Linked DNA regions of Homo sapiens: regions 2 and 3 are each linked to region 1. Evidence: fine-mapped expression QTL. A gene starts in region 1. Each other region holds a variant in brackets. All regions are shown on one strand. Distances are between the middles of the regions.

The links. PIP is the estimated chance that this variant, and not a neighbour inherited with it, causes the effect. A credible set is the group of variants that fine-mapping cannot tell apart.
Region 2: its variant is the best candidate, but not a certain one, in a credible set for the expression of CENPW in B cells (Fairfax 2012, PIP 0.78).
Region 3: its variant is the best candidate, but not a certain one, in a credible set for the expression of CENPW in subcutaneous fat (GTEx, PIP 0.55).

The regions. Positions count from the first base shown.
Region 1 is chr6:126,332,173-126,342,990 of GRCh38, reverse strand. It overlaps CENPW (centromere protein W), which reads right to left and starts at 2,876. Exons shown (of 3, transcript NM_001012507.4): 1 at 2,592-2,876. The coding sequence starts at 2,717. RefSeq lists enhancers at 2,657-2,706, 2,717-2,986.
Region 2 is chr6:126,579,430-126,590,247 of GRCh38, reverse strand. No RefSeq gene overlaps it. Among named protein-coding and RNA genes, the nearest start is that of MIR588, 100 kb to the right of the region's middle. The variant C/T (reference allele first, on the strand shown) is at 3,834.
Region 3 is chr6:126,378,467-126,389,284 of GRCh38, reverse strand. It overlaps a transcript of CENPW not described here. Among named protein-coding and RNA genes, the nearest start is that of CENPW, 44 kb to the right of the region's middle. The variant G/A (reference allele first, on the strand shown) is at 5,636.

The DNA.
Region 1 (10,818 bases):
AACTCTCTCCCTAGTACCATCCCTGGGGCTAAACAATCAAATAAGGCATAAAACAAACAAAATAACAAAAAGCCAGTGAAGAATAATAAAATAACACAAAGAAATTATAAATAAAATGCTAGAAATGACATCAATCCACATAGTTGTCATGCATTTCCAAAATTAATTGTAGACTCAGAATGTTGAAGCTATTATGCAAAACACCAGGAATACAAAAATTTCCAAATTCAAGTTCCCAGACTAGTGGCAGAATCAAACCCATAAAGAAAAAGGCAAATGTGTGACAATAGATGATGGAGAAGAAGATAAGATTGATCCTTTCTAAGGACATTAAGGAAAGCGTCACTGAAGTAACATTTGAACTGGATTTTGAAAAAATTGTAGGTTGCCAAGTAGAGTGAAGACATCTTCAAGCAGAAGAAATACCATGTACAAAAGGCAGCATAAAAGTAGATTAATTCTGTGTTAAAGATAATGGGAGACAGAAAAGGAGATATTCATTCTCCTCAAGAAGCTGCATACCACACTAGGAAACATCAGCATATGAAAACTCCTAGACAACAGTGTTAAGAGTCCCAATAGCTCAACTGTATGATGTATACTCTTACTGCTGTCCAAGTTCAGAAAAAAGAGCAGATCAAAACAAACTGCTTTAACTATAGAAAACTTTGTGGATGATGTGGGATGCAAGTGAATTACACTTCTACATAATTTCATTTGATCTTACCTTAGGTCTTTTCATGATTCTAGCTTTTCTTTACAAATGCTGCTCCCTTTAATTTTAAGGTTCCTCTCACTTAACCTTGCAATAACTTTCAGGTGTAGTTTAATGCTAATTCATTGAACTTTTTGCTAACTCATTGAACTGGGTAAGATATGAAGTGTCAAAGGTGAGCAGAAAGCTATAAAGAAACCAGGGTAATCCATGCCACATTCAAGACAGTGAAGGCGAACTGTTTAATGAAAGCCAAACACGACGAGCATACTACCTGGGAAAAGCTACTGACCAAAAGAACATTCTATACCCCATCAATGCAACCGCTTGAAATTTCAACTCACCCACTTTCCCATGCCACCTGGATCCCACCGCACTATGGAGCCCCTCTGTCCATGGGTTCTTTGGAGGAAGAAAGGGGTAGATGTGGGAGGATGCTGACTACCTGAGGAATTTCCACTAAGCCATTTGCACCAGCTAGTGGTCTCTTGGATATCTTTGATCAGGTACATTTCCTCTCCCTCCATTTAGAAGCCCCAGTGAAAGCTCCATAATATACTACGTAAAAATGTTTTGCAAGTGAATTTCATTTGAATTCCGTTCATTTGTGCCACCTCTATCACCAGCATGGGATAGTTAATTGGGGTCGGGGCACAAGACAGCCTGTATTGCCTCTTCTTACAAGATTTAAGAAAGTAACAAAAATAAGGGCAGAAGATAGAAGTAATACTTTTCTGGGGGAAAATGTGTTTTTGTTGTGTTTTGGCTTCAGAGACCAAATAAGGGGAAAGGGGCGATAATTCTATAGTAGTTTAGAAAAGGAAGCAACAGATGGGGTGGCAGTGGAGAAGTCCAGGAAGCAAAAGAGTAAAGAGGAGGTAGAAAAACCAATGTCGTTTAAGAACAGCTAGGATGATTCATGCAGTATGCTCTTATTATCCACAATTCTGTACCTTGATCTCCTGGAAATTATGTGTCCATTTATAATGGCTCCTTTACTCAAAGAGCCAAGGACAAGCTACCGAACATGCCTCCAGTGGTTTAAACCTAGAGAAATAGTGTTCATTGTGCCAGAGGAATATGTGTTCCAGGTATTCAACACACAAACTGAATTTATTTCAAGACAGAAACATTATTATACAGTGGTTTGATTGGGGCTTCTTATTAGGAGAACATTATGCTTCAGGTATTATGGGTCAGATAAGCAGGCTTTAGTAGTCTAGCTTAAAAACTGACTAGGTGTTCTATTACTTGTCTAGCGAAATGAATTAACAGTTGAGAGGACTCTTCCTACAAATAAACTTTCCCATCAGGGTCCTTTAGTAAGCACCCTCACCTAGAGGAAATAAGGCAATGTTTGGTTAAATGCGTAAATAGAGGAGAGACGGAGGGAGCCAAGGGAGGAAAGAGGAGACAGGGAGGGAGGCAAGAAGGGAGGCCCTTAAAAGGCATGTGAGCAATGCCTTTTACAATAGCTAAATAAAAATGACCCAGACTGAATTCCAAAATCTATTTTTTAAAGGGTGATTCTTTCATACCCTTTGCAAGTACATTAATCACGGTGCCAGATTGTGTTCCTAAACAGCAATATTTAAAACTGTAAGCAGTAACTGTACGTTAAGCTCATGTGACTAACAGTCTCCCTTTAAAAAGATCCAGATATTTACTTTTCGGCGCGGCCCGGTACAACTGAGCGCCAGGAATATGAACTGACATGCCAGGGTGGGGCATACGTTCCCTGTCATTGTTGGAACTGCCTTAAACAGGGGCCTGAAAGAGCTATAAATTGGCTCGGGGCGGAAAAACAAAGGCTTAAGGTTATTGCCCTTACCTCTCCCGTGCCCCATTCCCAGCCCGAGAAGGGATGGAATCTCACCAATAAGTCACCACTTTTCTCCAGACGAAGTTGAGGCTTCTTTCGCTTGAAGACTCGCTTTAGAAAGCCACGGGGAGCCTTCCGCTTTATCTGCTTCCTCTGGGAGACTATGGTCGACAGCGCCATCCTCTCTGTCAAGTACCAGCTGCCTCAGCTTCCGAGGTGCTCTCTGTATCGCACACAAGCTCCGGGGACACTGGGCCAGCGAAAACAATCCGGTCCGTATGACGCTTCTTCAGGCAGAAAAACCTCAGTCCGAACGTTCGAATCCGCCGCCAACGGAACGCGCCCGGCGCTCAGTAGTGACGTTAACCCTGAGCAAGCCCCGCCCCCGGAGACGCCTGCCTGTAGGTGGAAAACGCCCACGGTGGGCGGGTCCCGGGAATACCTGACGTCATTGAGAGCCTGCGTCCTCCTTTCATCACTTTCTGTATTATAACTTTTGCTCTGTGGAAGTGTTTCTGCTAGGTTCCCTAGAGATGATTGGAAGTTGTGGAGAGAGAGATTGGTAAGCCAAGGCAGTTCTTCAAGCACTCACTCTATACTGTCCCTAATACCAACGAACAGAAGTTTGTGATGTTTTATCAGGATTCCGACAGCACTAATGCCATGCCTTCCTAGCAAGGAATGCATGATTTTCAGATACTAACAGTTAAGAATTTTACACTTCTACGTAATTTCATTTGATCTTATCTTAGGTCTTTTCATGATTCTAGCTTTTCTTTACAAATGCTGCTCCCTTTAATTTTAAGGTTCCTCTCACTTAACCTTGCAATAACTTTCAGGTATAGTTTCATGCTAACTCACTGAACTTTTTGTTATTTCTTCAAGCTGTTAATTTCTCTATTATCTGTGCTATTATAGAAGTATTAATAGTTATCAAACCTTAATGTGCATCAAAATCACCTGGGGGACTTGTTAAACTACTGTTCGCAGGGCCCAGCTCCCAGTTTCTCATTCACTAGATCTAGGAGATACTCAAAATTTGCAATTCTAACAAGTCAGGGACATTGGCATTTGCTAGTCTGCAGACCAATCTTTGAGATCCGCTGTGATTTTAATTATAATTATCTCTAATACTATCTCTATTGAGATTTCAATATTATGTTATTGTGATCTCACGCACACAAGTGATCCTTCTACTATCTGGCCTCCCATTTCTGAGACCTCCTCTCTGCCAGTCATCTTCTACACCCTTGAGTTATTCATGCATGTGGTCATACCCTAGGCGGTGTCATTACTAAATACCTTTACCTTCGGTTTGATCTGCCACTTTCAATTTAGTTGTCTCTCTTCAACCGTATCTTCTATCTTTTGAATTTACTCCCTCCAACAATTCTTCGATGCTACTGGGACTACTGTCCTATCTTTTTCAGTTCCTCTCACCACACCCCCCAGCTCTGCCACCCCACTCTATGCCTTATCTTCCCTCCTGTAGTCCATTATGCATCGATCATCATAATACTGCCCTGTATTTCTCCACAACTTTATAGCCATTCTCTTTTATCCTCACACTAACCTGGCAATATTCCAACTCTGCTTAAGTTAAAATCTCAATCTATTCAACACTTGTATCTGTGTATTAATATTGGCATAAGAAAACAACACTCACAGGTATATGTCTGATCTCAATTCAAATTCATGACCACTCATGTGGGCTCTAAGTACTGCTACAATCCTTTGATATTTCCTAAAGCCATTCATTCATTTACTCATTCTCTTACATAGCTATGTCATGCCTTCTATTTCTTACCTACCCCATTCTCAATCTCCAGTGATGACATTGCTTCAACAACAAAATAAAATTTAAAAAAATCCATGGAGACTTTCTGTATGCTTTCACCACCCCATCTATCCATCAGTCTCCACCTGCTCCCATGGATGAGATGCCAACTACTCCACTTGTGCCCGAGATCAAGCCCTTTCCCCTTTCTTAAGGACATTTCTGTAGCAATTCTCCTTGCTCCTCTGCTTCATGAATTTTCCTTCTTTGCCAATTTTTTTCCATCAGCACCCACACAGCTTATAATATCTCCAGGCTTTTGAAAACCCTCTCTTAATCCTACCTTTTGCTGTTGTCCTTCTACAGAACAAAACAAAACTAGAAACCGTTGGCTAAATTCAGTGTCTCCAAATACTCTTCGCTTATTCTCTGTTAAATCCAGTACAATCAGACTTTTCTAGCTATCTCTTCACCAAAATTGTTTTGGCCAACGTGACCAATAGCATCATAGTTGCAAATCCTATGGCCAATTTTCAGGCTTCAGTTTATTCATCAAACCAGAAGTATTTGTTGAGTTTCATGATTTTTCCTTCCATAAAACAACATATTTAATTGGATATGATTCTCTTTTGTTTTTCTTTGTACTTGATAGCACCTCAGTCTCCTTTTCTGGTTCTTCCTTTTCTTTTTGATCTCTAAATTTTAGAGTACCCCACAACCACATCCTGAGATTTCTCCTCTATCTACATTCATACCCCATGTGATCTTCTCCAGTATAAAGGTTTTAAATACCAAATTTACATCTCCAGCTGATTCTCCCCTAAACTTCAGGCATGTATATCCATTTCTCTGATGGATTAGAATTCTAAAAGTCATCCTAACACCATGTCAAAAATTAGGGCTTGATCTGCCCTTGCTCCCCAAACATGTTTCTCCCAGTCTCTTACCTATCTTATGTGCTAGCACTTCCAACCTTCCAATTACTTAAGCCAAAATCTTGGAATCGGCCTTAGCGCCTCTCTTTATCTCACCCCATATTCAATCTTTCAGCAAATCCTGTCAGTTCTCCTTGCAGTATCTGATCACATCTCACCACTTCCACTGCTACTACACTTGGCCTGGACACGATCATTCACATGGCTTATTGCAACATCCTCCTGAGAGTGTCTCAATCTGTTTCTATTCTTTCTCAACAGAAGAGCTAAATTTAATTCAGATTATGTCATTTCAGGACTCACTAGTTGTTTCCTCTCTCCTTTAAAATCAAAAAACAAAGTCCCTATAATGACCTGAGGCCTTACCTGCCCCCCTACAAATGCACATGCACTTACAAATACATAATTAACTTACTTACCTTCTACAATGGAGCAACTCACTCTCCACCGTGTTAGTCTCCTTAATATCTTCAATGGTCCAGATGTTTTTGTCCCCCCAAAATTCATATGTTGAAATCTAATCATAATGTGCTGATATTAAGAGATAAGGGCTTTGGAAGATGATTATGTCATGAGTGCAGAGTCCCCATAAATGGGATTAATGTCCTTATAAAAGAGGTCCCAGAGAGCTGCATTCCCTTTTCCACCAGGTGGGAACATAGCTAGAAGGCACACCATCTATGGGCCCCGAAAGAGGGCCCTCACCAGAACCTGACTTTGCTGGCACCATGATCTCCGACTTTCCATCCTTCAGAATTGTGAAAAACAAATTTCTGTTGTTTATAAGTGCTATAGTTTGAATGTTCCCTTTAAAACTCACGCTGAAACTTAATCCACAATGTGGCAGTATTGAGAGGTGAGACCTTTAGGAGGTGATTGGGTCTCAAGGGTTATGTCCTTATGAATATTTAGTCCCTCCACGGGTTAATGGATTAATGGGATATCATGGGAGGGGAACGGGAACTGTGGCTTTATAAGATGAGGAAGAGGGTCCTGAGCTAACACATTAGCATGCTCAGCCTCCTCACCATGTGATACCATGCACCATCTCAGGAATTTACAGAAAGCCCCCACTGGCAAGAAGGCCCTCACCAGATGCAGCCCCTTCACCTTTAACTTCCTGGCCTCCAGAATTGAAAAAAATAAAGTTCATTTCTTATAGATTACCCAGTTTTAAGTATTCTGTAATAGCAAGAGAAAATTAACTTAGACAATAAGCCCCCAATCTATGTTATTTCTGTTATATCACCCCAAACAGACTAAGATAATATATTTCAGACAGACCTCAAGTACATGCAACACAACACACTCACACACCCATCAGGTGTTTGCACTAACTATTCCCTCTGTTAAGAATGCTTTTTGGCCAGGCGGGGTGGCTTAGGCCGGTAATCCAGCACTTTGGGAGGCCAAGGTGGGCGGATCACTTGCAGTGAGGAGTTCAAGACCATCCTGGCCAACATGGTGAAACCCTGTCTCTACTAAAAATACAAAAATTAGCTGGGTGTGGTGGCGTACACCTGTAATCCCAGCTACTTGGGAGGCTGAGGCAAGAGAATTGCTTGAACCCGGGAGGCAGAGCTTGCACTGAACTGAGATGGCACCACTACACTCCAGCCTGGGCAACAGAGTGAGATTTTGTCTCAAATGAAAAAAGAAAAAAAGAATGTTTTTTTCCCATTTATCTGCATAGGTGGCTTCATCACCTCTTTCAGGTTTTTGCTCTGACAAGTATCAGACAAACCTTCTGTTTACCATAGAAACACATGTAACTATATATATGCCTAGAAGCTCATGTACACACATACATATACATACCCAGTCATGCGCAGAATCTGATCTCATCCCAGCTCTGTGTTCAGTAGTATTATGTTGGTAGCTAGAAACTGGTGATGGTATGTGTACTTACAGCATGGAATTTGGCAAACGCCAAAATTCAGATATTATTATTGTTGTGGTTGTTATTTCTGAAAAGCAAGTTATTAATGAATTACCAAAATAAATTACACATATCTCTAATGGCTTAAATCCCTAACCCTCTCTCTGTGGTTCATTTTTCTCTGTAACACTTTTTGCCATCTAATGTTTGCTTCTGCACAGAGAAAAATTTTATTGTAGCTTTATTTATAATAGAATTGGAGACAAATAACATTTATTAAGAGAGTAATAGAGATACATGTTGTCATATGTATTCGTTTTCTTTTGCTAATGTAACAAATTATCACAAACTTATGGCTTAAAACAATGGAAATTTCTTATCTTACAGTTCTGAAGATCAAAAGTCTTAAAACCAAGGTGTTAGTGTGTGGCATTCTGTCTGCGGACTCTAGGGAAGACTGTTTCCTTGCCTTTTCCAACCTCTAGAGGGAACCTGCATTCACTGGCCCATGGTTCCTTCCTCCCTCTTAAAAACACATCACTCTAACTTTGTTTCCATCATCACATTGTCAATCTACATAACAAAGAGAGAGACGTTCTCTTAAAAATAATATTTATTCAGGAACAGGGCATTGTAATGGGAGTATGCATGCCATAGTAAAATTTGTGTGTACTGAGAGAAGTAAAGAAAGACAAAGGCGTTTGTTTTGGTTTTGGTTTTAGTTTTTGAGAGAGAGTCTTGCTTTGTTGCCCAGGCTGGAGTGCAGTGGCACCATCATGGCTTACTGTAACCTCTGCCTCCCAGGTTGAAGCAATTCTCAATTATCCTGCCTCCACCTCCCAAATAGCTGGGACTGCAAGCACATACCACCAGGCCTAATTTTTGTATTTTTATGTGACACAGGGTTTTGCCATGTTGCCCTGGCTGGTCTCGAACTCCTGGCCTCAAGTGATCTGCCCCCCTCAGCCTCCCAAAGTGCTAGGATTACAGGTGTGAGCCACCGTCCCTGGCCAAGAAAGACAAGGGCTTTAAAAGAAAACATGAAGAGGATTACTTGTTTTGAGACAATGAACCTTGGCTATGGTGCCAGTCTGAGGTTGGACAGGCAGATGCTGGGCAGATGTCCTTGCAGAAGTATTTTTTCTGTAAGATTGCAATGGCCTTTGTGCAAAGTTATGGTTTTTGCAGACCCTTTTGTGATAGTTTTTGTTATAAGGCATTTATGACTCTCCCACTCCACTTCATGACCTTCCCCAGCTCTATTTGTCAGGTGTTTTTCTTGTTTGTTTGTTTGTTTGCTTGCTTTGAGATGGTGTCACATTCTGTCAACACAGGCTGAAGTGCAGTGGCACAATCATAGCTCACTGTAGCTTCAAACTCCTGGGTTCAAGTGATCCTCCAACCTCAGCCTCCTAAGTAGCTGGGACTCCAGGCATTCACCACCATGCCCAGCCAATTTTTAATATTTTTTTAATGACAGAGTATCACTATGTTGCCTAGGCTGGCCTTGAACTCCTGGCCTCAAGCGATCCTCCTATCTCAGCTTCCCAAGTCACTAGGATTACAGGTATGAGCCACCATCCCAGCGCAATATGTCATTTTTTAAAAATATGAATGAGTCCATTTTGATGTCAACAACTTTTATATTTCCCAATGTTAATCAAGACCTTTGTCTAAAAGCACTGCTGATAAATCATCCTGTAGTTCGGTTTTGATTGTCCCATGGTGCCAGGATGGACTTATCTTGGGTATAAGATACCAATAGGTCTGGTCCCACATTGGAGGGAGTGAATGGCTACTAAAAGTCAGTTTCAAAATCCATTTAGCCAGATTTGAACAATAGAAAGGTTTAAAGAGAGTGGCTCTCCAGCTAAGCCTGTGGTCCATTATTAAGTTCAATTTTTGTCTGTTCCATAGTCTTTTGCTATCATCTCAAAGTGCTGGATCAGCTTTATTCTGTTAGTACTTGTATTGCTGCACAAATTTAACAAGTAACAGATACACAGCTTAAAAGGGGGAAATACCAGGTAAATTAGTATTAATATGACAGTCTCAGTTTGCGTAATGGTATTGAGCCACAAACCTAGGCTTAAAGGCAACCAGTTTAAATAAATCAATGACCGTTGTCTTCCAAGTGAAAAAACTAGGCATTAAAAGGAATTAAAGTCTCATTATGATATGGAGCCATTTTCCATCATCTTGGAAAAGCTGTCTAGAGCATGAAAATATAAAGTTCTTGTGTTTCTTTGTAGTTTGAATATCTCTGGCTATAGTGTCAGGTAGTAGGGTAAACTTTCTGTGTAACCCATGCATTAGGCATGAGACTTGTTCCTTAAAATTCATCTACTTTCAGCTTATAGGGCTTCAAGAAGAGAGTAGTTTCTCTTTTAAATAATTCTATGGAAGAAAATTGGATTGGAGGAAACTAGAAGAATTTAGGATCTAGTCTAGTCTACAGGTAGATAACAAGAACTTGAAAGCAATGTGCAAAGCTACAATCTAATAACAGATGTAGTATAGCTTTTCTTTAGAAATGTAAGTTTTTCTTTCCATATTGATAACATAGGAATCAGATTTTAAAACCTCTTTGGGATAGGAAGCCAAACCAAGGTAGACTTTAGATTTAACTCGTGGTCTACAATCTCTGGACCTGCCAAAAAGTGACAGTTTTTATTCATTCACTGTAAGCCTAGGAACCCTTGAAATGAGGTATTCTATGCATATTCTCAAATATGACGCTTTAGTAAAAACCTTGGTAACATAACCAACATTTCCAATCATATCTTGTTATAAAGAGAGAGCAGATTTTTTATTGAACTTATACAAGTAACTATAGTGCCATAAGAATACTCACCAGTGGTTTCAAAATTTGGGGGGAACCAAGTAGAAAGGAAAAGCAAATGTCTCCACCTTTATTCACAGAAGTATTCTTTACCAAATTGCTGTATAAATTACTCTAGATACAAAATTTTCTTAAATCTGGAAAAGATATTTAAGTAAATAACAAGCAATGCTTCAAATAAAAATTATTATTATTTTTATCAGTTATTCAAGTTGATGTAATGAATGTTTGATCTTTTTTTAGCAGTTTCATGAGCCAATCAGTTTCTTTTTTTTTTATTTTATTATTATTGTACTTTAAGTTTTAGGGTACATGTGCACAATGTGCAGGTTAGTTACATATGTATACATGTGCCATGCTGGTGTGCTGCACCCATTAACTCGTCTTTTAGCATTAGGTATATCTCCAAATGCTATCCCTCCCCCCTCCCTCCACCCCACAACAGTCCCCATAGTGTGATGTTCCCCTTCCTGTGTCCATGTGTTCTGATTGTTCAATTCCCACCTATGAGTGAGAACATGCGGTGTTTGTTTTTTTGTCCTTGTGATAGTTTACTGAGAATGATGATTTCCAATTTCATCCATGTCCCTACAAGGGACATGAACTCATCATTTTTTATGGCTGCATAGTATTCCATGGTGTATATGTGCCTCATTTTCTTAATCCAGTCTATCACTGTTGCACATTTGGGTTGGTTCCAAGTCTTTGCTATTGTGAGTAGTGCCGCAATAAACAAACGTGTGCATGTGTCTTTATAGCAGCATGATTTATAGTCCTTTGGGTATATACCCAGTAATGGGATGGCTGGGTCAAATGGTATTTCTAGTTCTAGATCCCTGAGGAATCAC
Region 2 (10,818 bases), 250 kb before region 1:
AAAAAAAAAACTGTCAACCCAGAATTTTGTATCCTGCCAGAATAAGCTTTATAAATGAAAGAGAAATGAAGTATTTCCCAGACAAGCAAACGCTGAAATAATTCATCATCACTAGACCAAACTTACAAGAAATGCTCAAAGGAGTTCTTAACATGGAAAATAAAAGGTTGACACTCATCATCATAAAAATACATGAAAATATAAAACTCAGAGGTCTTATTTAAAAATTACACAAAGCAAGGAAATGAAGAAAGCAAGTAGGAAACATTACAAAACCCCACAAATCCATAAAGACACACACAAAAAAAAAAAACAGAAAAAAAATCAAAAGAAACAAAGAATCTACAAAGCAACTAGATAACAATGAACATTATGGCAGGAAATAAATTCACATATATATTTATCAACTTGAATATAAATTGATTAAATGCACCACTTAAAAGATACAAATTGGTGGAATGGATTAAAAACAAACCATAATTCAACTACATGCTGCTTACAAGAAACTTACCTTACTTGTAAAGACACATAGGGTGGTGGTAAAGAGATGGAAAGGGATATTCCACACACACAGAAACCAAAAGCAGGCAGGAATAGCTATACTTATATCAGATAAGACAGATTTTACACTGACAACAGTAAAAAAATAAATGACAAACAAGGCCATTAGATAATGAATGATAGAGTTTGATTCAACAAGAATATATAACAATCTTAACTATATATGTACTCAACACCAGATAACCCAGATTCATAAAACAAACATTACCAGACCTAAAGAAAGAGACATACAGCAATACAATAATAGTAGGGGACTTCAACAGCCCACTGATAGCACTAGACACATCAAGACAGGAAATCTACCAAGAAACTGTGGACTTAAATTGGACTTTAGACCAAATTAATCCAAAAGACATTTACAGAACATGCTACTCAACAAATGCAGAATATACATTTTTCTTATCAGTGCATGAAACATCGTGCAAAATAGACCATAATTTAGTCCATCAAACAAGTCTCAATAAACTTTTGAAAATTGATATTATATCAACTATATTCTCAGATCATAGTGGAATAAAACTAGAAATCAATTCAAAGAGGAACTGTCAAAACTACATAAATACATTAAAATTGAACAATTAAATGAATGATCTTTGGGCCAATTATGAAATTAAGAGAGGAATTTAAAAATCTTTCAAAATAAATTAAAACAGGGACACATCATACCAAAACATCAGGGATACAGCAAAAGCAGCGCTAAGATGAAAGTTTACAGTGTTAATTACCTACATTAATAATTAGAAAGATCACAAATTAACAACTTATTGTCTTACCTCAAGAAATTAGAAAACAAACAAACAAACCAAACCCAAAGCTAGCAGAAGATAAAAGCAAGAATCAAAAAAAATAAATGAATGAAATTGAGACCCCAAAACAATACAAAGAATCAACAAAATGTAAAATTGTTTTTTGAAAATATAGACAAAATTGTTAGACTGCTAACTAGAATAACTATGAGAAGAAAAAATTCAAATAAACATAATCAGAAATGAAAAAGGAGACATTACAACTGATACCACAGAAGTATAAAATATCAAGGACTACTATGAAGAACTGTATGCCTGTACACTTACGAACTAAAAAATCTAGAAGAAATGTATAAATTCCTGGAAATATGCAACCTTTCAAGATTGAACCTGGAAGAAATATATATCCTGAACAGATCAATAATGAGCAGTACAATTGAAGCAGTAAAAAACAAACCTCCCAACACAAGCCCAGGATCAGATGGATTTACAGATGAATTCTACCAAACATAACAAAGAAGAACTGATACTTATCCTACTGAAAGTCTCCCAAAAATATTGAGGAGGAGGGAATTCTCCCCAGTTCATCCAATGAAGCCAGTATCACTCTGATACCAAAGTTAAACAAGAACACAGGAACAACAACAAAAACAGCAAAATGACAAACCAGTATTCTTGATGAATATAGATGCAAAAACCCTCAACAAAATACTGTCAAACCAAATCCAACAGGACATCAAAAAAACAATATACCATGATCAAGTGGGATTTATTCCAGGAATGCAAGGATTATTCAATAGCTACAAAACGACAAATTTGATTTGCCACATACACTGAATTAAAAACAAAATTCATATGATCATCTCAATAGATGCAGAAAAACATCTGATACCATTCAGCATTTCTTCATGATTAAAACACTCAGCACACTGGGCATAGAAAGAAAATACCTCAAAATAATAAAAACCATATATGATAAACCCAAAATAATAAAAACCATATATGATAAATAATAAAAACCATGTAAGATAAACCAACATCATACTGAACAGGAAAAAATTGAAAGCATCCCCCTCTAAGATCTGGAACAAAACAAGATGCCCACTTACGCCACTCCTATTCAACACAGTACTGGAAGTCTTAGCCAGAGAAATCAGGCAAGAGAAAGAAATACAAATCATCCAAATTGGAAAAGAGAAAGTCAAATTATCTCTGCTGATGTTATTATCTTATACCTACAAAAGCTTACAGACTCCTCTAAAAGACCCCTAGATTTGACAAATGACTTCAATAAAGTCTCAGAATACAAAAATCAATATACAAAAATTGGTAGCATTTCTGTACACCAATAATGATCAAGCTGAGAAGCAAATCAAGAAGTCAATTTCATTTACACTAGTTACAAAAAAATCAGTATAAAACACTTAGGAATATATTTAACCAAGGAGGTGAAATATCTCTACAAGGAAAACTAAAACCCACAAATAAAATAACTTGCAGATGACACAAAGAAATGAAAAAACATTCCATGCTCATGGATTAGAAGAGTCAATATTGTTAAAAATTATCATATTGCCCCAAATGATCTATAGGTTCAATGCAATAACTATCAAAATACCAATGTTGTCTTTCACAGAATTAGAAAAAAAAATCCTAACATTTATATGAATCCCAAAAAGAGCTCAAATTCCCAATGCAATCCTAAGCAAAAAGAACAAAGCTGAAGGCATCACATTACCTGACTTCAAATTATACTACAAGGCTATTGTCATATAATAAGTAGTATAGTAACCAAAACAGAATGGTACTGGTATAAAAGTAGACACACAGATCAAGGGAACAGAATAGAGAATCAAGAAATAAAGCATACATACCTACAGCCAACTGATCTTTGACAAAGTTATCAAAAACATACACTTGGGGAAAGACACACTATTCAATTAATAGTGCTGGGAAATTTGAATTGTCATATACAGGAGAATGAAACTGGACCCCTATGTCTCAGCATATACAAAAATTAACTCAAGATGAATGAAAGACTTAAATGTAAGCCCTGAAACTATAAAAATACTAAAAGAAAACCTAGGAAAAACTCTTCTGGACATTGGTCTAGGGAAAGAATTCTTGATTAATACTCAAAAGCAAATTCAACAGAAACAAAAATAGACAAAATGAGATTTAATTAAATTAAAAAGCACTACATAGTAAAAGAAATAATCAACAGAGTGAACCAATAACCTGCAGAATGGGATTAAATACTTGCAAACTATACATCGTACAAAAAACTAATATCCATAATCTACATGGAACTCAAACCACTCAACAATAACAAATCAAATTAACTGCTTAATAAGTGGGCAAAGAACACACACAGACATTTTGCAAAACAAGACATAGAAATGATCAAGAAGCAGATGAAAAAAAATGTTCAACATCACTAATTATCAGAGAAATGCAAATTAAAACCGCAATGAGAGACCATCTTTTTTTTATGCTTTAAGTTTTAGGGTACATGTGCACAACGTG[C/T]AGGTTAGCTACATATGTATACATGTGCCATGTTGGTGCCCTGCACCCATTAACTCGTCATTTAACCTTAGGTATATCTCCTAATGCTATCCCTCCCCGCTACCCTCACCCCACAACAGGCCCCAGTGTGTGATGTTCCCCTTCCTGTGTCCATGTGTTCTCATTGTTCAATTCCCACCTATGAGTGAGAACATGCGGTGTTTGGTTTTTTGTCCTTGCGATAGTTTGCTGAGAATGATGGTTTCCAGCTTCATCCATGTCCCTACAAAGGACATGAAATCATCATTTCTTATGGCTGCATAGTATTCCATGGTGTATATGTGCCACATTTTCTTAATCCAGTCTATCATTGTTGGACATTTGGGTTGGTTCCAAGTCTTTGCTATTGTGAATAGTGCCGCAATAAACATATGTGTGCATGTGTCTTTATAGCAGCATGTTTTATAATCCTTTGGTATATACCCAGTAATAGGATGGCTGGGTCAAATGGTATTTCTAGTTCTAGATCCCTGAGGAATTGCCACACTGACTTCCACAATGGTTGAACTAGTTTACAGTCCCACCAACAGTGTAAAAGTGTCCCTATTTCTCCACATCCTCTCCAGCACCTGTTGTTTCCTGACTTTTTAATGATCGGCATTCTAACTGGTGTGAGATGGTATCTCATTGTGGTTTTGATTTGCATTTCTCTGATGGCCAGTGATGATAAGCATTTTTTCATGTGTCTTTTGGCTGCATAAATGTCTTCTTTTGAGAAGTGTCTGTTCATATACTTTGCCCACTTTTTGATGGGGTTGTTTGATTTTTTCTTGTAAATTTGTTTGAGCTCATTGTAGATTCTGGATATTAGCCCTTTGTCAGATGAGTAGATTGCAAAAATTTTCTCCCATTCTGTAGGTTGCCTGTTCACTCTGATGGTGGTTTCTTTTGCTTTGCAGAAGCTCTTTAGTTTAATTAGATCCCATTTGAGAGACCATCTTACATCAGTCACTTATTAAATGGTAGAAAAAAATAATGGATGTTGGTGAGGATGTGGAGAAAAGAGAACACTTGTACATGGTTGGTGGGAATGTAAATTAGTGCAATCTCTATGGAAAACTGTATGGAAATTTCTCAAAGAACTAAAAATAAATATATCATTCAGTCCAGCAATCCCACTACTGGGTATATGTCCAAAGAAAAAGAAATCATTATATCAAAAAGATACCTGTACTTGTTTGTTTATCACAGCACTACTTATAACAGCAAGAATACAGAATCTATGTAAGTGTCCATCAATGAATGATTGGATAAAGTTATTGAATACACACACACACACATACAAACACACACACGTACAGACACGAGTGCTATTCAGCCGTCATGTATTTTGCAGCAACATAAATAAAACTGAAGGACATTATTTTAAGTGAGATATCTCAGAAAATACTGCGTGGTCTCATATGTGGGAGCTAATTTGTACATATGGACATAGAAAGTGGAACGATAGACAATGGAAACTCAGAAGGGTGGGAGGTTGGGAGCAGGGTGAGGGATAAGACATTCCTTAATGGGTACAATTTTCATTACTCAGCTGATGACTATGCTAAAAGCTCAGAGTTGACCACTATGCAACATATCCTCGTAACAAAACAACACTTGTACTCACTAAATCTATAAAAACCAAATGAATCCAAAGCACGCTTTAACCACTAGAAATAATTCAATACAAAATAAAGTTGGCAATAGCTAAAAATGAAAAAGTTAACATTATTATTAACCAAAATGTAAGATATAGTAAAGTCTTTGGCAACATTTAGATTCATAAATTCAATACAGGTAAAAATGGACTTCATAGAAATAAAGATTTTTTTCTAAGGTTCCTAGTGGCAGAAACTATATTTAGGAGAATGTGATATCAATGGTGTTGCCAGGCATGTGAATATCACACAGTATGGTGTATTAGTTAAATTCCCAGGTTTGAAGCATCTACTTGAATTCCACTCCCAAATCTGTACCAAATGTATATCTTTGGAAAGATGCTTAGGTATCTATGCCTCAGTTTATTATTTTTTATTTGTGAAATCAAAACAATATTATCTATCCAGGCTGCTAGAAGTTATATATAAAATTTAGAAGCATATATTTAGACGTATATATATATATATAAAATTTATAAGCATGTCTGGCAAATAGTGTCTGCTAAATAACTATTATCTACTAGTGCTGTTAAGATTAGGGAATGATATTCCAGACAAAGAGAATGCTAAGGCAAAACTAAAGGGGGAAATGATTGTGGCATATTTTGAGGAAGAGAAAGCCTGTAATGGGTAGGCTAGTCAAAACTTAAGAAGGAGAGTAGGCACTCATGGATCCTGAGGAGCTCTATAACTAAAACATAAGCTTGGATTTCACTCTAGGTGCAGTGCTGAACACTTAGATGAATTTAAATGCTGAGGAGAATTGTTTTGTGTGCAAGGAACAGAAAGTAGGATGGATGGCTTTCCCTACACATACTAGAAAATCTGAGTTGAAAGTTAAAAGGTAAATAGGGTAGTTCAAAGAGAAAAATCAACTGATGGTGGTCTTTAGTGCATTAATTTAAAGGCTTTGTATTTGAGATAATAGAGAATTAGAAACCACTACTATTTCTGAGAAGGGAAGTGATTCACTTAGTCACTTACTTAGACAACATTAAACAGAAAACGACCCCGGAATTACAGATTTTTATAGAAAGATGCTGATGGCTTTTAGGAGGTTGCTGAAGATCTGTATTGTTTTATCTAAGTTATATTACCAAGAGAAAATTATGCCAGTAAAAATGAAGTTGAAAATATTTTGATGGATTTCAAATTTCTATCCAATCTGAGAAATTCAGGAGATATATTAATCACTATTCTAATTATATGAATAATTTGGACAAAGGAAGAAGAAAAAGGGGCTGCTTATCCGGGTTAAATTATGCAACTACTGATAGAGCCTGAAGGTGAAAAAAATCCTATTTTAAAGAGCTGACACAAAACAGCATAAAATTTCAAATAAACAAAAGCTAAGTAATAAAAATGATATGTATTATTTCACATAAAACTTAGCCAATATGTATTAGTTCACATAAAACTTAGCCAATAAGATTTTTATATTTTAAAATTATATTAATTATATAATTATACATATATTCATCTTGCCTACCTACATATAATGCTGGAGGGTATTTGTGCAATATGCCCCCAGCTACACATCTTATTTTAAAACTTCATCACTTTTAGGTTATGATGTAAATACTAAGACATGAAGATGCAGCTAAGGATTTTATAGGCCATTGTAGGACTTCAGTGAAATAGTGAGCCATGTGACAATTTTGAGTAGAGAAATGGCACTATATGATATCATTTTTGAAAGCTTCACTGTAGCACTTTTGTTAATTATCAGTAGTAGAAAGGCAAGAGTATAAGCCAGGAGACCTGCTTAGAGATTATAGTGGTAATCCAGGTAGGAGATGAAAGTGGAAATAGTGGAAGAGATGAGAAAACACTAGAGTATAACATACACAATATTTAATATAGAGCTGAAGAGATTTGCAGGTGGATAGACTGCAAAGTGTGAAAAAGAGGAATCAAGAGTGAATCCCAAGGTATTTTTTGGACTGTAACTTGGGAGGATTGAGTCAATGCATACTAAGAAAGGAAAGAGTGGGACTGGTTTTATGAGGAAAAAATCAGAAGCTCATTATTGGGTTTAAATGCCTGTTGAAATTCAGGGAAGATTATAAATGGGCAGTTGAATATAAAATCCAGTTTAGGACAGAGACTATGCTGAAGATAAATTATTGGGATTTGTTAGCATATATAGGATGTTTAAAACCATGAGACTAGATGAGACAAAATAGCAAATGAAGACAGCAGAGAAGAGAGCAAAAGGACTGAGACTAGAACACTGTAAAATGTAGAGGTCAGAGAGAAGAGGTATCAGCAAAAGCTAGTGCGAAAGAGCCAGCAATGAGGAAAGAGAAATCGAATAGTCAGTTGTCCTTAACCACACATTGGGAAAGTATTAACACATAATGAATTGATTTAAAGTACAAAACACTATGCTTCAAACTAATGAGTTTAAAACAGAAGAATTATGAAGAAAAATACAGTTCTTCTATTTTGGATACTGCTTTAAGGTAAATAAAAAGTACTTTCCCAGTTAACTTTTTTACTTAAACTCAAGCATAGCATGTCTGTTTTGTGATTTTATCTATCACTGTTTCCAAAAGTCTGCAATTACCAGTGAGTTAAGGCACTTAGGCTTTATTACAAAAGTTGGGGAGTGTGGAGAGCCCAATGCAAGCTGACAAAAAAGAAAAATAAGTTTTTAGAACATCCGTGACTAAAAACTATGAATCATAAGGGAATAAAATAATAGAACTGTAGACTTGGACTGAAAGAGCCAATGCACAAAAAAATGAAGAAGAAGAAGAAGAAGAAGAAGGAGGAGGAGGAGGGGGAGGAGGAGGGGGAGGAGGAGGGGGAGGAGGAGGAGGAGGAGGAGGGGTTCAATCAAGAAGACAATCTAGACTCAAGAAATCAGAAACACTATTTATTAGACATGTGTAATACCTAATAAATAATGTACTAGGCAACAAAATGTTAGCTAATACCACAACTTGATAAAATTCATTATATCTTCTAAGTATATAACCAAGTATATATATACTTCATCACTCATATATATATACTTCATGATGTAAAGTATATAGATATGTGTATATATATACACTTCAGTGCTATGTATACTTCATCACTCATATATATGAGAGAAAGAGAGAGGGAAGGAGAGAGGAAAAGAGAGAAAGAAAGAAAGAGAAAGAAAGAAAGAAAAGAAAAGAAAAAGAGAGAAAGAAAGAAAAGAAAGAGAAGGAAAGAAAAAGAAAGAAGAAAGAAAGAAAAGAAAGAAAGAAAAAGAAAGGAAGAAAGGAAGGAAGGAGAGAGAGAAAGAAAGTGAGCTGAAAAACAAAAGGAAAGAGGAAGGAAAGGAAGGAAGGTGAGAGAGAAAGAGAGTGGGAAGGAGAGAAGGAGGGAGGGAAACAAAGCACCACTGTAGGAATCAGTGGATGAGATTTGTTAGTTTTGAGTAATTTTTTTACTTAATTATTTTTTCAAGAGCTGGGGTCTTGCCATGTTGCCCAGGCTGGTGTGCAAGGGCTATACACAGGCATAATTATCATAACCCACTGTAGCCTTAAACTCCTGGCCTGAAGCAATCCTCTTGCCTCAGCTTCCTGAGTAGCTGGGACTACAGGCGTATGCCATCACACCCAGCTTAATTTTTTATAAGAAAAAAAAATAGCTCTCACAAATTACTACAACTTTCTGCTCTCCATAAATTGTTTTATTTATAACTATGACAATGCATTTAATTCTATTTCTCACCGCAAGTAACAAAATCACCCCAAATAATAAAAATTCTGGTTTTCTTCATGATCTTAGAAATATTCTTTAGTTGCCTAAAGAATATGTGTGTGTGTGTTTTATATATATATATATATATATCACATATATAAAACACTTGGAACCAAAGAAAACATGGATTTGTGGTTCAAAGTGGTTAAAATCAGAAAGCCTGAAGCATAAGCTTAAAATTAGAAAAAGTAAACAAGATAATTAGATAAATCCAGAACAATCTGAGATCATCAAGGATTATGACAAACATGTGGTTGGTCTTGAGGCTACCCACTATGTACTTGATGACAACAAGGATAACATCACTATTCCAGCCACAGTTAGAGTTAGAAGAAAGTAGTAGCCCTCTGTCTTTAAATTATACCGTGTATGTAGATACTAATATGAACTGTATTATTATTGAGGAGATGCACGTGAACCCAAATTTTGCCGAAGGACCCTGAGCAATAGTTGAATAAAGTCATTACATCTACCGAATGGCAAAATTTCAGTTATACACGATGAATAAGTTCTAGAGAGCTGCTATACAACATTGTGCTTATAGTTAACAACACTATATTGTGCACTGGAAAATGTGTTAAAAGGGTAGATCTCATGCCAGTCAGAATGGAGATTATTAAAAGTCAAGAAACAACAGACGCTGGTGAGGTTGTGGAAAAAAATGCTTTTACACTGTTGGGAGTGTAAATCAGTTCAACCATTGTGGAAGACAGTGTGGTGATTCCTGAAAGATCTAGAAGCAGAAATACCATTTGACCCAGAAATCCCATTATTAGGTATTTACCCAAAGGAATATAAGGAATTCTATTTTAAAGATACATGCATGCATATGTTCATTGCAGCACAATTCACAATAGCAAAGACATGGAATCAATCCAAATGCCCATCAATGAAGAAAATGTGGTACATATACACCATGGAATACTATGCAGCTGTAAAAAAAAAAACAAGATCATGTCTTTTGCAGGGACACGGATGGAGCTGGAAGCCATTATCCTCAGCAAACTAACACAGGAAAAGAAAACCAAATACCACATATTCTCACTTATAAGTGCTTATAAGTGGGAGATGAACAACGAGAACACATGGACACATGGAGGGGAACAACACACACTGGAACCTGTCAGGGGGTATGAGGGGAGGGAGAGGATCAGGAAGAATAGCTAATGGATTCTGGACATAATACTTAGGTGATGGATTGATCCGTGCAGCAAACCGCCATGTCACACCTTTACCTATGTAACAAAAGGGCACATCCTGAACATATACCCCAGAACTTAAAATAAAAGTTGAAGAAAACAAATCTGTAAAGATATATCTAAAGAATACAGAAAATGATGTTCATTTTTAACATCCCAAAAGATGTTTTTTTAAAAAGTCAGATTGAAGACATTCACTTGTCAAATAATGGTAGAAGCATATTCAAGGTAAATAAAGGTTGGGAAGAATTAAATCTACAACAATAAATTTTTTTAAAGGGTAGATCTCATGTTAAATGGTTTTACCTCAATAAAAAATCTACAATCATATTTAAAATTTCATTATGCCCATATTGAAGGAAA
Region 3 (10,818 bases), 46 kb before region 1:
CTGCAACTGTAGATAGCAATTGTCTCCTATGTGGTCCCACATCTGTGTCATGGCAGCAGTAGAGATAGTTAGAAATTATCCTGTGTTGGAAGTGAGTTGGAAGCATTCTTGGTGTCCATCAGTTAGAGAGTGATAGGTAAAAGGTAGCCAATGCATACAAGGGTATTATGTTACAGTTAGAAGAAACAGATTGTTTCAAAGAACAACAGAGATGGATCTTTAAAAATTAAGTCTTGGGGAAAAATTAGGAAACAGAATGAGATCTACAATTTTTTCATTGACTACTTATCCTCTGCCTCCATAATCATCAAATCTATGGAAACCCTTTGAATGCTTGCTTTTTCATCTAGTCATTCATTAGATATTTCAGCCCCTATTATGTACCAGCCCAAGAGCTACATGCACACTATTTGATATTAAACAAGAAGTGTTCTACCCTCAAGAAGCTTAAAATCTAGTAGGAGTGGCAGAAAAGTAAATAGGCAATCACAATGCAATAAAATAATTATTAGCATGTATTCATTCTCTTTCTTACCCTTTTCATCTTCTTTCCAAGTGAAATGTCAGTTTACCAACTGATAGAAAGACACACCTAAAGCCCAAATGACTATAATGGCCTCCAAGTACATCAACCAAGTAAGCAACGTCCCATGCATTCTCTCAGACAGCTGAAACTCATTAGTTTCCTTGGGCAGTCCTATAAATACTCCACCCAAACATGAACAGTAGGTCCTGACCTTAGTCAGAAAACTGACAACCAAATGTCCTGTGTGTTATCCATCTGTGGTATTCACTATGACAACAAGAACCACTTCAAAAACAATATGTGGCATTTGATAAAATAGAAGGTGCTGGAGGGAAGAGACCATCAGTTCAGTAAAATTAGATCCAGCTGTGAGGGACTCAGGCCGGTGCTATCTGTAAATCGCCTTTTTCCCCCTGCCCTGTACATTATAGCAATCTACTACAGATTACAAGAGCACGGCCAAAAGCCATATGTTTGGCATCATATGAATAGCATCTGGTATTTTTTAAGATACAACTAAAAATGTTGAAAACACAATAAAACAACTGTCATTCACTTAATGTTTATGCTTATATCTTAGCTCATAGATGGTTTTATGACAAATAAACAGTTGTATGAAGTCTCAGTTTAGTCACCTTCCTTTATACATTTCTTTCCTTGGTGAATTACACTTTTGTCTTTCTTTTTGGCTTGGTCTGAGTGTCCTTTTGTGCTACTGTATATGGTGAAACGTTGTATAAGCAGAATGAAGCTATCTTTTAAGGTGGATTCAGCCAAATAGTCTGCAAGGCCATAAATATTATTTACACTCAATTCTTTTTACTAGAAGTCAGTCGGGCTCTGGCTAGTATGTTTCATAAGGTCTAGAATTCAGGATTCCATTAGAGTAGTAAGGGAAAACCACATGCAGTTGGCACTTTGGAAAGTGGACATGGGCAGTTTTTCTGGCCTATATACAAACTATCATTCTTGATCAAGTCTATCCTCTGATTTGGAAACTAATTTAGGCATTTTGACAAGTGTACCTGTTACTAATTGGTAACCTCAAAGCGGTTTATGTAAACCCAATAATCGGTAGAAACCTCTTAGTTACTGATTTAGGAAGACACTTAACCCCTTGCTGAAACAAATTAATTATATCGACTGATTCATGTCTTCTTTGCATCTGCCCATACAATATTGCAGTTAGGCTTAAAATTTTAAGGTAGGAAGTGTTTCTTTTCTGTCTTCAGAAGCCAATTCAGGAAATGATAAATATACTAATTGCACTTGAAAGGCATATAATAGAGAGGATGGCAAAAATATTACTATGGCTTTTTAGAAAACCACAGTTTAAAAAATGGCAACTTTCCTCCGTGAAATTGGGATATAATTTCCAAAATCAAGCTACGCCGTATATGAAACACCACATTTATACTTAATGAATACTTCTAATCACTCTTTCTTACTTCAGAGTTTACACTTTTCATTGTGATTTATTTTTGAGAGTAGCTAGTATGTGATCTGGCCTGCAGATATGTAGATTTCATATCCAAAAAAAGATTATAATAACAATAACAATAAAGGTAAAGATGAGTTAGGACAAGTTCTCAGTGAAAAGTAGAAAGGCTTGGAATTTATTTATTAAAAGAAAAACTAGAAAATCTCTTAGTTAATTTATAATCAAAATTAAGGATTTATACTCTAGATTTATTGTTTCACTAGTCAGTTAACTCTCTAACTTAGTTTCTCTAAATAAATCACTCAGTCATTTAAAAATAACTAATTTATTTGTAGTAAATTATTTTTAAATTAGTGATGTTTAATGGTATTACATGGACTAAACTCCAAAAAGTCTGCTTTAATAGGGCACAGAATGTAATTTTTAATTATATTTCTTCCTACCTTGGCACTCCCATGCTACTTTATTCCAATTATTGTACTTATCAAGATAAAATATATTTACTATAATTAGACTATGTGTTCTTCTAGTATCAAGTTCATGTCTTATTCATCTTTGTGCCCCTAGTGCCTACCTGGAAGAAGCTAACTTGTAGGGCAGTGGAGGGGGAATAAAAAAGGGTGTTGAATAAAAAAATAAATTATTTGAAAGCAAAGCAGCTGGTCAGTTTGGAGACTGTTTCTCTAGTGTACACTGCACAACTATTTCATCTCTTTAAAGATATAAACCCTAATCTGTGCCAATCTGTGAAACACAAACCCATTAAAATGGCAGAAGGCGCAGTGTACATAATTCAAAGAGCAATAAAAATTGACTAATGCAACTGATGACCATTAAATTCCAAGCAAGGAGACTGATATAGTTAAATAGTACTGGGCATGTTTAATAGTGCACTTTACTATATGAGTTATAGATCAGTCACTGCTAGTTTGGTGCGAGGATGGAACATGGCAGCAGATTGACAACATTTCCCTCACAGAGATATTCTCCCTCCATTTATACACATGGGGAGTTTGTGTTATAACTGAAAGACAGTAAATAGTCTGACTGAGGTAGATGTTACAAGTGGGAAAGAAAGTAGCCTTTGTTTCCTACCTGACCATATGGGTTAGATTTGAGCTCTTACTGTCAAATGACAGAAGGCCAAGTGAAAATTAATTAGATCGTCTGCATATCTAAAAAGATAAAATTGTACAGAATGGTTTGAAATAACTCCTACTAATCTTGAAACTCACTCCGAAGGATAATTCCTTTTACCTGTTATAATATTCTATATTTCAAAAGAATACATTTATACTCTCTTGGTTTATGAATTTTAGGCATTACCAACTGAATTCTAGTTATCTGAAAGTTTAGCTTACCTATTGAACTAATCTCTTCTCCTCCTTCTTTTCAATATGAATGTATTCATCTGTTTTCATATTGCTATAAAGAACTGCTCAAGACTCAGTAATTTATAAAGACAAAAGGTTTAGCTGACTCATAGTTCAGCAAGGCTGGGGAAACCTCAGTCTTACAATAATGGCAGAAAGCGAAGGGGAAGCAAGGCACCTTCTTGAATAGGCAGCAGGAAGAAGTACCAAGCAAATGGGGAAGAGCCCCTTATCAAACTGTCAGATCTCATAAGAACTCACTCACTATCAGAACAGCATGGGCAAAATGGCTCCCATGATTCAATTATCTCCACTTGATCTCTCCCTTGACATGTGGGGATTATGGCAATTACAATTAAAGATGAGATTTGGGTGGGGACACAAAGCCTAACTATATCAATGAATAAGCAATATTTAGTCTTCTTTCATAAAGTTTAAGTAATATATTTCCTCATTTATTCCTTGTTGCATCAACCAAAGTAATAGTATCTCTCAAAGGACATGAGTTTGTTCTTTTTTATGACTGCATAATATTCCATGGTATATGCACCACATTTTCTTTATCCAGTCTTTTATTAATGGGCATTTAGGTTAATTTCATGTCTTTGCTATTGTGAATAGCACTCTGATTAACATATGTGTGCACATGCCTTCATGATAGAACAATTTATATTTCTTTGGGTATATACCCAGTAATGGGATCGCTGGGTTGAATGGTAGTTCTGTTTTTAGCTCTTTGAGGAACTGCCACACTGCTTTCCACAATGGTTAAACTAATTTACATTCCCATCAGAAGTGTGTAAGTATTCCCTCTTTGCAACCTTGCCAGCACCTGTTATTTTTTAACTTTTTAATAGTAGCCATTCTGACTGGTATGAGACAGTATCTTATGGTGGTTTTGATTTACTTTTCTCTAATAATCATTCATATTGAGCTTTTTTTCATATGCTTCTCCACCAAATGTGTGTACGCATTTGAAAAGTGTCTGTTGATGTCCTCTCTCCACTTTTTTAATGGGGTTGTTTTTTCTTGTAAATTTAAGTTCCTTATAGATGCTGGATATTAGATCTTTGTCAGATGCATAGTTTGCAAAGATTTTTTCATTCTGTAGGTTGTCTGTTTACTCTATTGATAGTTTCTTTGGCTGTGCAGAAGATCTTTCATTTAATTAGATTCCATTTGTGTTTGCTGTTGTTGTGATTGCTTTGCTGTCTTCATCATTAAATCTTTGCCAGTTCGTGTGTCCAGAATGGTATTGCCTAGATTGTCTTCCAGGGTTTTTATAGTTTTGAGTTTTACATTTAAGAATTTATCCATCTTGAGTTGATTTTTGTATAGTGTAACAAAGGGGTCCAGTTTCAACTTTCTGCATATGGCTAACCAGTTATCCCAGCACATTTATTGAACAGGGAATGCTTTTCCCATTGCTTGTTTTTGTCAGCTTTGTTGAAGATCAGATGGTTGTAGGTGTGCAGTCTTATTTCTGGGCTCTCTATTCTGTTCCACTGGTCTATATGTCTGTTTTTGTAATAGTACCATGATGCTTTGTTTACTGTAGCTCCATAGTATAGTTTGATTGGGGATCATGGTGCCTCCTGCTTTGCTATCTTTGCTTATGATGGCCTTCGCTATTAGACTCTTTTTTGGTTCCATATAAATTTTTTAAAAGTGCTACAAATTTCCCTCTTAACACTGCCTTGGCTGTGTCCCAGAAATTCTGGTATGCTGTATCTTTGCTCTCATTAGTTTCAACGAACTTCTTGATTTCTGCCTTAATTTCATTATTAACTTGAAAGTCACTCAGGAGCAGGTTGTTCAATTTTGATGTAATTACATGGTTTTGAGTGATTTTCTTCGTCTTGAATTCTATTTTTATTGCACTGTGGTCCAAGAGAGTGATTGCTATGACCTCAGTTCTTCTGCATTTGCTGAGGATTGTTTTATGTCTGATTGTGTGATCAATTTCAGAGTATGTTTCATGTGCACCAGAGAAGAATCTATATTCTGTTGCTCTGTAGATGTCTATCAGGTCCATTTGTTGGGTTCAGGTCCTGAATATCTTTGTAAATTTTCTACCTTGATGACCTGTCTCATACTGTCAGTGGGTTGTTAAAGCCTCCCAGTATTACTGTCTAGGAGTCTAAGTCTCTCTGCAGGTCTATAAGAACTTGCTTTATGAATACAGGTGCTCCTGTGTTGGGTGCATATATATTTAGGATAGTTAGGTCTTCTTGTGGAATTGATCCCTTCATCATTATGTAATGCCCTTGTCCTTTCTGAATTTTGTTGGTTTAC[G/A]GTATGTTTTGTCTGAAATTAGGATTGCAACCCCTGATTTTTTTTTCTTTTTTCCATTTCCTTGGTAGATTTTTCTCCACCCCTTTATTTTGAGCCTATGGATGTCACTGCATGTGAGATGGGTCTCTTAAAGACAGCATCCCATTGGGTTTTGTTTCTTTATCCAGCTTTCTACTCTGTGCCTTTCAAGTGGGGGCATTTAGCCTGTTTATACTCAAGGTTAGTATTGGTATGTGTGGATTTGATCCTGTCATCAAGTGAATAGCTGGATATTATGCTGATTTGTTTGTGTGGTTCTTCATAGTGTCACTGGTCTATGTACTGAAGTGTGTTTTTGTAGTGGCTGGTAGTGATCTTTTCTTTTCATATTTAGTACTTCTTCAGGAGCTCTTCTAAGGCATTTCTGGTGGGAACAAATTCCCTCAGAATTTGCTTGTCTGAAAAGAATCTTATTTCTCATTCACTTATGAAGCTTAGTTTGACTGTATATAAAATTCTTGGTTGGAATTTCTCTTCATTTTATCAATGTTGAATATAGGCCCCCAATCTCTTCTGACTTGTGGAATTTCTGTTGAGAGGTCTGCTGTTGGTTTGACTGACTTCCCTTTGTAGATAACCATTCTTTCTCTTTAGCAGCTTCCTTCATTTCAACCTTATAGATTCTGAAGATTATGTGTCTTGGGGATAATCTTCTTGTGAAGTGTTTTGCAGGAATTCTCTGCATTTCCTGGATTTGAATGTTGGCCTCTCTAGCTTGGTTGGGGATATTCTCATGGATGATAACCTGAAATGTATTTTCCAAGTTGCTTCCATTCTCTTCATCTCTTTCAGAGGCACAAAGGAGTTGTTGACTTGGTCTCTTTACATGATCCCATACTTCTTGGAGGTTTCATTCATTATTTTAATTTTTTTTATTCTTGTTAACTATCTTATTTCAGAAATTAGTCTTCAAGCTCTGAGATTCTTTCCTCAGCTTGGTCTATTCTGCTGTTAATACTTGTGATTGCATTATATAATTCTTGTGGTGTGTTTCTCAACTCCATCAGGTCAGTTACATTCTTTTCCATACTGGCTATTTTTTTCTGTCAGCTATCATTTTATTGTGATTCTTAGCTCCCTTAGATTGGGTTTCAACGTTCTCCTAAGTTTCAATGATCTTTGTTCCTATCTATATTCTGAATTCTATTTCTGTCATTTCAGCCATCTCAGCCCAGTTAAGAACTTTTGCTGGAGAGCTAGTGCAATTGTTTGGAGGAAAGAAGGAACTCTGGCTTTTTGAGTTGTCAGAGTTCTTGTGCTGGTTCTTTCTCATTTTTGTGGGCTTATATGCCTTCACTCTTTGCAGCTGCTGTCCTTTAGATATTTTTTAATCCCATTTAATGACCTTCAAGGTATATATATATATATTTTTTTTGAGATGGATTTTCGCTCGTCACCCAGGCTGGAGTGCAATGGTGCGATCTCGGCTCACTGCAACCTCCTCCTCGCAGGTTCAAGTGATTCTCCTGCAGCTGGGATTACAGGCATGTGCCACCACACCTGGGTTTTTTGTTATTGTTGTTTTGTTTTTGTATTTTTAGTAGAGACAGGGTTTCACCATGTTGGTCAGGCTGGTCTCAAACTCCTGACCTCAGGTGATCCACCTGCCTTGTCCTCCCAAAATGCTGGGATTACAGGTGTGAGCCACCTTCAGGGTTTAATTGCGCTCTGAGGTGGGTTCAGTCGACTGGCTTCATTTCTGGAAGATTTTAGGGAGCCAAGGTTCAGCTCAGGACTTCTGAACTGTGTGCTCTAACTTTAGGGGACTGGTACTGAGCCCTGGTTTTGTGCTCTGACTCCTCGAGGTTAGGAACTTGCTGCACTAGCAGGACCAAGATGCTCTTGGACCACTGGTCACAACACTATGATGGGCGGTGCCAGCCAAAGCCCTTCATAGGGCAGTGACAGTGGGATCCATATTTATTCACGTGTCAGCAGCAGCAGCAGTGCGGCAAGGTGCATGTTGGTTGGCTGGCGGCAGGGTGCTAGAGGGTGCTGAGATGACAGGCTCCAGGTGAGAGTTCAGATAATGTTGGCTTTTGTTTCAAGAACACAGGGCAAAAAAAGTAGAAAAGCATTTCCCTGGGGCTTGAACAATGTTAGTCTTGACAGTGGATGTTCAGGATATTTAAGGTTACTGGTTGCATTAACAGAGCTGGACACTGGATCATGAGTAACAGAGGTAGGTGCTCACATATAGTTTAATAAAAGTGTATATGCATGCATTTGGGATATCTAGTCATCAACTAGATCTCTAAAGAAATGTGAGGCCCAAGGCTAAGGTTCTCTTGCCTAGTAATAAGGGTGATACTGCTGCCAACAACAGAAGTGACTCAGATGCCAGTAAAGGTCCTAAGACAACATATACAAAAAGAATAAATATCATCATTAGACAAAAACAAAAACATTCAACAATACTTGTTAAAACATGTTAAGGAAGATTCATTAAGGACCACTGAGGGACTACAGCAACAGGATTTGGCCGTGGAGGAGAATTGGGGTAAGGGGGATTCTTGCTGAAGACAGGCCAGAGTAGTTAGACATCACCTGGGGAATGGTGGAGGATAAAGAACTTGATCAAACGTTGAGAGTGATCAGATATCAAGGGTGGGAGGTTCTTGCCAAACTGTCTTAGCAGGGTTCTTTGCTAAAACTGGATTTAACAAGAAAGTACAAACACACGCCTAGGAGAAGGTTCAGATCCTGGCTAAAGTTCGATCAACAGAGAATCTTTGTCATTACTAACAGTGACTCTTAAAGGTTCCTATGTCATTGTTATTATTTCAGGAAAAAATAAACAAAGTTTTAAAAATAAATTTGACAAACTTTAAACTGCAACTTTCATGATGCAGGTATCATGTCTGTGGAGGTCACTGCCATTTACTGTGAATACTTGATGCCCAATAGGATCTTTAAAAATATGTATTAAATAAATAAGCAAATAAAATATTTTTATTTTGTCTACTATGCATTATGTGATAAGCTAGAGTTAAGACAGTGGGTGCCCCCTATCCATGGCTTCAAGGGGATACCAGAGACAAGATTCACATGCTAGAGTAGAATTTAGCAACCTCTCATCAGCCTTTCCACAACTGGGACAGCTCAACCTAAAGCACAGGGAAACCCTCTGCCATGAACAACATTACACACAACAGCAGAGCCATTGCTCATTACTAAGGTCATAGGTGAATTTCAGGGTTAAGTCAACACCAGATCTGAGTTCTCATTACTTTCAATTCAATACACAATTTGAAAGCAAGCCAGTTAATCTGAGAGGATATGTTTCAGTACTATGACAGCCTTATTCCAGCTTCAGCTTGGACTTTGGTTCCCATTACTTTCAATTCAATACACAATTTGAAAGCAAGTCAGTTAATCTAAAAGGATATGTTTCAGTACTATGGCAGCCTTATTCCAGCTTCAGCTTGGACTTTGGTTCCCACTCTGCTTCTGCTCCCGAGCTTAAATCAACTTCCAGTCTCTGTTCCAAATTGGAGTTGTGCCACAAGCAATTCCCCTGGCAAGTCACTTTAGTGATGAACTTTAGGGGTTGGTGGCACAACCCATGAACTTAATCTGGATGGGTAATTTGGAACTGGTAATGAAGCTTGATTCAATTTATCAGCTGCCAAACCTTGATTGAAATATTTAAATTCATCCAAGCTTCAGACAATTTATGGGAACTTTATAAAAAGAAACAGAGAAAAATAAAAGTTGTTGCAATAAAATGAAACACATTTTTGGAAAATGCCTACTTTTATAGCTGTCAAAGATTATACTTTTCATGGAATTATACTTTAATTCGTTTGATTTTTCTTTCTCCAGAATAATCACACATACTCGGACTCCAGGCCCAGGTAATTATATGAACATGTCAACTCATTTAATGACAGCATGGAGTTTTTACCAGTTATACGTAAATAGTGTATTTGTACAACTGGAAGTGATTTGCAACAACTTTGACTTATCAAGAATACTAACTTTAGCACTGATAAATATTAGTAAAATGTTGGATGGGATTCAGACCACATTGGTTGGAATAAACCAGTGTAGGTTTCAGGGGAAGCAGAGGGTTAGCAGCATAATAAAAATTAAGAGCATTAAATTCACCTAAAGGGCCAGGCTGACAGCCCTGGAGGCCAATATCTTTCCTTTATTCCCAAAGCATGTATAACATAGGCTTCACACTCAAGTATTAGTAAGATTTCCTCTAGTGTTCTTCCAATAAATTTAGCCATTTTCCATGAAGGAATGCCTTATATATATTAAAGAAAAAAGCTTTCACCTCATAATTTAAAATTTAATCTTAAAATTTCTTAATAAAAGAAACAATTATTTCCTGGGATTACGAAAACCTCCACTGTGAGTTTAAAGCACTTGGAGCTCCTTAAAGGCAGAAACTATGTCTATAAGACACATTCCTCACAGAAAGGGCTTGGTCCAAGGTGGGTGTTCTACCTATGCTTATTGAGTAAATTTATTAGTTAATATAATTTACTAATTTTTCAGCATTAAGTTAAAAAATTTCAATCAGAATAAGAGTTCACACATTTTGTAACTAGTACACAAAGGCCAGACACTGAAGTGCCAATTATCTACCCAAAAATATGTTGACTGAAACAATACAATGTATATTTTACAATGTAATATTTTTCCTATATGCAATAGAAGGTTAAATTCTTTAAATTTCTATATACAATATTTCCATTTACAATGCCAGTGGCTAATCTTTCTTGCTTTTTTATTTAGACCTATTTCTATGTGATTTTTTTCTTAAAGAATATGAGGTGTATTTCCTTTTTCTCTAAAGAGTGCAGCTATTGGAATTAGAAATATTTTCAAATTGTCACATAAACATGTCTGACATTCTGCATTCTATGAATCTCATTGTATGCACACAGCTTTCATCCTCCTGTTCTGGACTTTAGGTTATACCTTCCACATAAGATTAATTACCATTCCCTGTTTTATGAACCCAAAGTGCTCTGGGCAATATATCACAGCAAAAATGAGTTCTAAAGCAGTATGATAAAGTATCTTACCATCACAGCTTTACATTATTTGGGGATAGAGTGCTCACGACCAGTATATTTTTTATTTCTGCCTACATTGATTGAAGTTAATATTAGTTAAAAAAAAAAAAA